Regions from separate parts of the Homo sapiens genome. Here region 1 is linked to region 2. The links come from fine-mapping of genetic effects on gene expression. A gene starts in region 2. The other region holds a variant in brackets. All regions are shown on one strand. Distances are between the middles of the regions. Region 1 has its middle 31 kb from the start of TNPO3. Region 2 holds the start of STRIP2 (striatin interacting protein 2).

What was found. PIP is the estimated chance that this variant, and not a neighbour inherited with it, causes the effect.
Region 1: its variant is the best candidate, but not a certain one, in a credible set for the expression of STRIP2 in unexposed skin (GTEx, PIP 0.89).

The regions. Positions count from the first base shown.
Region 1 is chr7:129,084,306-129,088,697 of GRCh38, forward strand. No RefSeq gene overlaps it. Among named protein-coding and RNA genes, the nearest start is that of TNPO3, 31 kb to the left of the region's middle. The variant C/T (reference allele first, on the strand shown) is at 2,459.
Region 2 is chr7:129,432,730-129,437,121 of GRCh38, forward strand. It overlaps STRIP2 (striatin interacting protein 2), which reads left to right and starts at 1,703. Exons shown (of 21, transcript NM_020704.3): 1 at 1,703-1,872. The coding sequence starts at 1,744. RefSeq lists a silencer at 1,583-2,062.

The DNA of each region.
Region 1 (4,392 bases), 350 kb before region 2:
TTCTGCACAAAGGTAAAGGTTTTTGTTAATCTCATAGTTAATGGTATAAAACAGAGGTCATGCCGGGCGCGGTGGCTCACGCCTGTAACCCCAGCACTTTGGGAAGCCTAGGTGGGTGGATCATGAGGTCAGGAGTTCAAGACCAGCCTGGCCAAGATGGTGAAAGCCCGTCTGTACTAAAAACTACAAAAAAAATTAGCTGGGTGCGGTGGCAGGTGCCTGTAATCCCAGCTACTCGGGAGGCTGAGGCAGGAGAATTGCTTGAACCTGGGCAGCAGAGGTTGCGGTGAGCCGAGATCACGCCATTGCACTCCAGCCTGGGCAACGAGAGTGAAACTCCGTCTCAAAATAAATAAATAAATAAATAAATAAATAAATTTTAAGGGATATGGTTTGGAGGGAGCTTTCAGGGTAAAAGTATAGTGACATGACAAAGGGGAGGTGACAGAATATTGTAGAGTCCTTTGTATTCTTTCAAAATAGCTTTACTGAGATATAATTGACATACAGTAAACTACATGTTTATAGTGTAATTGGATAAGATTTGACATACATATACACCCGTGAAACCATGACCACAGTCAAGATAATGAAAATAGGCCAGGCACGGTGGTTCACAGGAATCACTTGAACCCGGCAGGTGGAGGTTGCGGTGAGCTGAGATCATGCCACCGCACTCCAGCCTGGGCGATAGAGTGAGAGGCTGTCAAAAAAAAAAAAAAGATAATAAAAATAAATATCAGCCCCCAAAAGTTTCCTTGTGTCCTCCTGTGATCCCTTCTTCCTGGAAACTTCCCCCAAACTCTCTCCTCAACCCCCCATTGTCCCTTATCTGCTTTCTGTAATTATGGATTGGTTTATATTTTCTAGAATTTTATAGGAATACAATCGTACAATATTTATTCTTTTATTTCCAGTTAACATAGCTTTTATTCAAAAGTCCTTACTCTTGTCTGGTTTATTTCACTTGGTCTAATTATTTTAAGATCTATCCACATTACTGCATGTACTTTAAGTGGGTGAGTCGTACGCTATTTGAATTATCTCTCAATAAAGCTGTTACTAAAAACAAACCACAATGAGATATCACTGCGCACCCATTCGGATGACAAAAATTTAAAAAACAGACAAAAGCAACTGTTAGTGAGGGTAGGGAGAAATTGGAACTCTCATACCCTGCTAGTGAGTGGACTTGTATAATGATGCAGCCACTTTGGAAAACAGTCTGGCAGTTTCTCAAACATTTAAACATAGAGGTATCTTTTGACCCCAAAATTTCACTCCTAAGTGTATATACCCAAGAGAAATGAGAAAATGTGTCTACACAAAAGCCAGTATATGAATGTTCATAGCAGCATTATTCCTTATTTATTATTATACATTTTTTTGAGGTGGAGTCTTGCTCTGTCGCCAGGCTGGAGTTCAGTGGCGTGATCTTGGCTCACTGCAGCCTCCGCCTCCTGGGTTCAAGTGATTCCCCTGCCTTAGCCTCCCAAGTAGCTGGGATTATAGGCATGCGCCACCACGCCTGGCTAATTTTTTGTATTTTTAGTATAGATGGGGTTTCACCATGTTGGCCAGGATGGTCTCCATCTCCTGACCTCGTGATCCGCCCACCTCGGCCTCCCAAAGTGCTGGGATTACAGGCGTAAGCCACTGCGCCCAGCCTATTATTATTATTTTTTGAGACGGAGTCTCGCTCTGTCACCCAGGCTGGAATGCAGTGGCGCGATCTCGGCTCACTGCAACCTCTGCCTCCTGGGTTCAAGTGATTCTCCTGCCTCAGCCTCCAGAGTAGCTAGGATTACAGGTGCCCACCACCACACCCAGCTAATTTTTGTATTTTGTTTAGTAGAGACAGGGTTTTACCATGTTGGCCAGGCTGGTCTCAAACTTCTGACCTCAAATGATCTGCCTGCCTTGGCCTCCCAGAGTGCTGGGATTACAGATGTGAGGCACGGCAGCTGGCCAATGGCAGCATTATTTATAATAGTCAACATGTGAAAAGAACTCCAATGTCCACCAACTGAGGAATGGATAAACAAAATGTGGTCTATCCATACAGTGAAATATTATTCAGCCATAAAAGGGAATGAAGCACTGATACGCGCCACAACACAGATTAACCTTGAAAACATTCAGCTAAGTGAAAGAAGCCAAACACACACATACCAACCCCACATATTGTATGATTCCATTTTTATTTATTTTTATTTTTATTTTTTATTTTTTCAGACAGGGTGTCACTGTCACCCAGGTTGGAGTGCAGTGGCACAATCTCAGCTCACTGCAACCTCCACCTCCCGGGTTCAAGCAATTTTTCTGCCTCAGCCTCCCAAGGAGTTGGGATCACAGGCATGCGCCACCACACCCAGCTAATTTTTGTATTTTTAGTGGAGATGGGGTTTCGCCATGTTGGCCAGGCTGGGCTTGAACTCCTGGCCTCAAGTGATCCGCC[C/T]ACTTTGGCCTCCCAAAGTGCTGGGATTATAGGTGTGAGCCACCATGCCCAGCCTGATTCCATTTTTATGTGAAATGTCCAGAATTGGCAAATAGAGACAGAAAGTAGATTAGTGGTTGCCCAGGTCAGAGTGAGGGTGGCTGGGGGCAATGAAGGTGACTGCTAAAGGGTACAGAATTTCTTTGTGGGGTAATACAAATATTCTCAAATTGATTGTGATGGTGTTTGCACAACCCGTACATATACTAAAAACTACAAAATTACATATTTAAAATGGCTAATTTTTACCTATGTGAATTATATCTCAATAAAGCTGTTACTGAAAAAATGTTCACTTACTGAGGTCATTCCATTATATGAATATACTTCAGTTTGTCTAGCCATTCATTTATTGAGTCATTGGATTGGCTCCTATTTTTGGCTACTAAAAATAAAGCTGCAGACCAGTGAAGTACTCACACCTGTAATCCCAGCACTTTGGGAGGCCAAGATGGGAAGATGGCTTGAGGCCAGAAATTCGAGACCAGCCTGGGCAATATAGCAAGACCCCATCTCTACAAAAAATTTAAAAATTAGCCCAGCATGGTGGCTTGCACCTGTAATCCCAGCTACACAGGAGGCTGAGGTGGGAAGATCACTTAAGCCCAGGATTTTGAGGCTGCAGTGAGCTACGATCATGCCACTGTACTCCAACCTGAGCAACAGAGCGAGACACTATCTCTAAAAAAAATAAAATTCGGCCGGGCGCGGTGGCTCACGCCTGTAATCCCAGCACTTTGGGAGGCCGAGGCGGGCGGATCACAAGGTCAGGAGATCGAGACCATCCCGGCTAAAACGGTGAAACCCCGTCTCTACTAAAAATACAAAAAATTAGCCGGGCGTAGTGGCGGGCGCCTGTAGTCCCAGCTACTTGGGAGGCTGAGGCAGGAGAATGGCGTGAACCCGGGAGGCGGAGCTTGCAGTGAGCCGAGATCCCGCCACTGCACTCCAGCCTGGGCGACAGAGCGAGACTCCGTCTCAAAAAATAAAAATAAAAATAAAAAATAATAATAAAAATAAAAAATAAAATTCAGGCCAGGTGCGGTGGCTCACGCCTATAATCCCAGCACTTTGGGAGGCCGGGGCAGGCAGATCACAAGGTCAGGAGATCAAGACCATCCTGGCTAACACGGTGAAACCCCATCTCTACTAAAAAATACAAAAAATTAGCCGGGCATGGTGGCCGGCACCTGTAGTCCCAGCTACTTGGGAGGCTGAGGCAGGAGAATGGCGTGAACCCAGGAGGTGGAGCTTGCAGTGAGCCAAAATAATGCCACTGCACTCCAGCCTAGGCGACAGAGTGAGACTCCGTCTCAAAAAATTAAATTAAATTAAATTAAATTAAATTAAATTAAATTAAAAAATAAAGCTTCAAGCCAGGTGTGCTGGCACCTGCCTGTAATCCCAGTTACCTGAGAGGCTGAGACAGGAGGATCACTAGAGCCCTGGAGTTCGAGTCCAGCCTGGGCAACATAGCAAGACCCTATCTCTTAAAAAAAGAGCTGCTATGATTTTTATTTGTCAATTATGCCTCAATAAAGTTGAGGAAGAAAACAATAAAGCTACTATGAACATTTGTGTGCAAGTCTTTGTATGAATATGTGCTTTTTTTGGGTGAATACACAGAGGTGGAAAGGCTAGATCATATGGTAAGTATGTTTAACTTTTTAAGAAACTGATCAGCTGTTTTCCAAAGTGGTTTTATCATTTTACATTCCCACCAACAGTGTATGAGAGTTCTAGTTCCTCTGCACTCTTATTAACACATGGTTTTAATCAGACATCTAATAGGTATGCAGTAGTTTCTGATTGTGATTTTAATTTATATTTCCTTAATGTGAATAATGTTGAACATCTTTTCATGTGCTTATTTGCCATCCATTTTTTTGGTGAAA
Region 2 (4,392 bases):
AGCCCCCTACAATAAATATTCAGCCCCAATTGTCAATAGTACAGAGACTGTGAAACGCTGCGTTAAACGTACATAAATTAGGGGCATACAAAAATGAGCTAAATTTGGTCTTACTCGCTAGGAGCCTATATGTGGGTGGGGAGAGGAGTGGGACTGGAAGAGGAAAAGGAAGATGTGAAGGTACAGTAAGGAGATATTGGACCAGGGTGAGAAAACCCAAAAAGCTCCAAAGAGTGCTCTCAAACTTGCCTTGTTCTGTCGCCTATGAACTGGCAAAGGGAAAAGTGAGAGAGAGAGAGAGATGTTAAGAAAGGGACAGGGTTGTCCCTAAGGTATGGGAAGGTGGAGTAATTCCTCTAGGCCCTTTGCTTTGGGTATATCGTGGAAAATGTTAGGATTTTGGATCTAGGCAGAACTGGTTTGACACCAACACAACCTGAATGAGTTGAGGGCTAAAAGGAAAGCTTTGTGGAGGAGGAGGAGGTGACAACTAACTAGAATCTTTATGAGAGAAAAGGAATCAACCAGGAGAACAGAAGACAGTCTCCTCCAGAGAACAGCATAGGCAAGACCCTGAGACAAGATAGAATATGATACCTTGGAAACCGCAGGGAGGAATCTGCAAGTGCCGGTTTCTTCATCAGTAACATTGGATTCGTAAAAACACCCTGTCGGGGAGAGGTATGATGTGATATTTGGAAAGCGCTTACTGCAGTGCCTGGCACCAAGCTCAGTTCAACAATCCCCCAGACCCTTCCTAAAGCAACCAGGCTGGGGACAGCGATTTGGTCCCACCTGTTCCCCTGAGCCTACGTCTTTGGGGCTTCTATTACCAAGCCAGACTGTCTAAATATTTACTACAAGCTACTTTTTAAATTCAGGAGAGGGCAGATCAAACAGCCTCTTTTGCCCCCAGTAACAATGAGCCCTTAGGAAGCATCTAAGAGAGAGGAAGGAAAGAAAGGACTGGCGAGCAGGTGAGGGTGGGGGCTTGCTCTACCCTCAACATTTACACACCATGAGGAAGAGGCCCCCTACAGCAGAGAAGGGCAGATGACAGGAGCAGCCCTCGAGGGCACCACCAATTTCAGTGATGGAAAAACTCCCCCATCCCACCCTTAGACCTCCAGTCTCCCAGCCAAGCCCTAGCTCCGGGCGAGATGCGTTCTCTTCAGAAAAACGCTGAGAATTCTCAGCTTCCAGAGACAGCGAGTCCCTCGTTTCGGGCGATGTCCCTGGCCACCTGGCGGTGCCATCCCTCCCCTGAGACTAAGCGGGATATGGGACGTGTGCAGGAGCCGGGATATGGGGGGCCGGGTCGGTGGTAACAGGGAAACGGAGACTGCTGTGGAGCAGTAGGCGGAGACTAGAGCTCCGGAAAAGGTCGCTACAGGGACGGGGGTGAGAGCTGAGAGACACCGAGTGAGGAGCACAGAGATAACCCGCCTGATCTCAAGGCCCAGCTTTCGCGAGGTGTGGAGCCTGTAGCTAACCTAGGAGTCTCCGTCCGCCAGCAATGCCGCAGGACTAAAAAGATCCCCTCAAAAATCTCTTCATTGAGCCCCCACCTCCTCGAGTCCCGCTCCGGCCGGTCGAGCAGCCAATCGCCTCGCGGGGCGGGGTTGCGGCGAGCTGCCGTAACCAATAGAGGTGGAGGGGGCGGGGCCTGGCTCCCGGCGCGCGGCGGTAGGGTCGCCTCCGGCAAAGCGAGCTGAACCCTGAGGGGAGCCGCTGACCAGCAGCATGGAGGACCCCGCCGCGCCTGGGACCGGGGGCCCGCCCGCAAATGGCAATGGCAACGGCGGCGGCAAAGGGAAGCAGGCGGCGCCCAAGGGCCGCGAAGCGTTCCGAAGCCAGCGGCGGGAGTCAGAGGTGAGGAGCCCGGAAAGCTTCGGCTGGGGCCCGGAGACGCCCGCCGGCGGGAAGCGGCGGCTGAGGTGATTCGGCCTCGGCCCCGGAGCCCTCGGCGCGCTCGATCAGCCCCGCGCAGTGGGCGCCTGCGGGGTCCTAGCGGCTGAACTCTGGGCTCTTTGGCCCGGACCAGTGTCCGCCCGTCTCCTGCCGCGGGTTGGGGGCTTTCTAGCCCTCTGGCTTTCCCCCGCTGCGCGAAGATGAGCGCGGTATTGAGCGGACCAGATACTTTCCAAATATTTATCTCACTTAATCGCTGCAGCCCCCTGAAGCAGAAATTCCGATCCCAGTTTATAGACGGGGGAACAGGAGCGGAGAGGTTAAGTGACTGGCTTGAGGGGTGGGAGGCTGGAGCTCAGCCGCAGGAAAGCAGGATTGGCGAGTGGGGCAACCGCAGTCCCCCTCCCAGGCTGCCTGCGGCGGGCCCCTGGGCCAGCCGAGGGACTTCTGCCCGTTCCCTGCCCGTCCCCTTCCCCCCGTAAGTCTTAGGCCGTTTCGGGAGCGCCTTCCGCGGACATCAGGCCCCTGCCTGTGAGGGCTGAGCGAGACGGGATTCAGGCAGGGGCAGTCCTGGAGTGGCTATCTGGAGGGAGCAGTCGCAGGATACAGATAGGAGTGTGAATATTTCGATCTCTTCCTCCTCTCCTGAAAAAAGAAACCCTATCTATGAAGATGAAAGCGTTGAATTATTATCACTTCCCTATCCCCTCATTGAGGCAGTTCCCATCAGTTGGATCTGAGCGGGGATCAGAATAGACGACAAAATATCAGATGTGGCAGGGTCTGCAGATATCATCTGGTATAACCCTTTCATTTTACAGACCTAAAAAAAAGAGGAGTGACTTGCCCAAGATCAGACATCTGGCATAGTTGGTGGTCAAGAACACCAGACTTTGGAGTAGTCAGACCAGGTTTTGACTCCTAGCCCTATCATTTACTACCTGTGTGATTTTCGGCACATTACGGAACCTCTCTGAGCTCCAGTTTCTTCATCTGTAAGATGAGATTAACACTGCCTACCTCAGAAGGTTGTGATAAAGTCAAAATGAGATAATTGACTATAAAATGTTTGGCACAGTGCAGGCACAATGCATGTAATTAGTCAGTACATAGTAACTCTTAGTATATTGCTATCATCATCATCATCATCATCATCAAGTGGCAGAGCTGGTACTAGAAACCAGGTTTTTGGCATCCCAGACCTTGCCTTACCATTTGAATAGCATTTCAGTTTCCAAAGTGATTTCATGTATGCTTTACATTTTGATGTAGGTAGAGTAGGAGGAATCCATTCATTTTTTTTCAAGGTAGAAATGGAGATGAAAAGACTGGCCCAAAGTCACCACCTTGCAGAGGCAGAGAGCTCAGCCCTCCTGTCTTGCTAGATGATACCCGCCACATCATCTCCCTCCCTACTTCAAGATGAGTCTGGTCTTTTAGGGCACCCTGTACCTCCTTCCCCCACAGAGACATTGTTCTCGTTCAAATGTTTTTTTGGGGAGATGAGCCATTCATTAATTCAACAATTATTTATCGAGGACTTTCTGCCAGCCACTGTTTTAGGTGCCAGGGATATATCAGTGAACAAGATAGGGTCTTCGCCCATGGGGAGACAAATTGTGAGTAAATAAATAAAATAATTTCAGAATGATATGTTCTATGGGGGGAATAAAAGTCTCTGCCTGGGTCTCCCTTCTAAAGTTGCAATCTGTTCCCCACCTGTCAAGTCTTCTTCAGGCAAAGGCTCTGAGAGTACAGTCCTTTGCTTTTGCCAGTACTTTGCAGTGTCCAGAGACTCGAAAGCTTTCCACCTGCACCGCGGTTTACCTGCTGATTGTCTGCAGCTGCACTCTTCATGCCTGGAAATGAACAACTGCTGCGATCATCTCTATCTGGGCTCATTGCCTGCCAAAAGCCTGGCTGGAAAGATTAGCTTTCCTCTACCTTCTGCTGCAGCAGGACTCCTTTTACCTGCCAGTACATCCCCTATTACCACAGTACCCAGGTGCCAGATCTGCTTTTCTTCTCTCCCTCTTTTTGCTTTCCTGTGGAAGGCAGTCCTTAGAGGAGATGGGATTTTTTTCCTCTCTAGGGCTTTTAGAAAATCACTAGAAGAGAATTACTGTGGCACAAGTCAAGAGAGCCTCATCGTGTATCACTGTTTATGGAAGCACTGTTGACCTACCTTCTCCCACTGGCTTAGTGTGTGAACATCCCAACCTAAAAAGGAAGCTAAAGAATAATTGTTTGCTTAATAAGAAGAGTCTTAACCTAATAAAAGGATTCACCTCAGACCTCTTTTAGCCAGATCTGGTTTATTGATCTCAAACTCCTTGACAAAGTTTTAACTGGTCTGTGGTAAAATGAGGAAAATTCAGGTCATCGAAGTGAGTTTTTCTAAAAATTTAGTTCAATATATTAAATTTAAGAATGTATACAATTTAAAACAGTGTTTTTCAAACTGCTATAGGGGGCAACCTG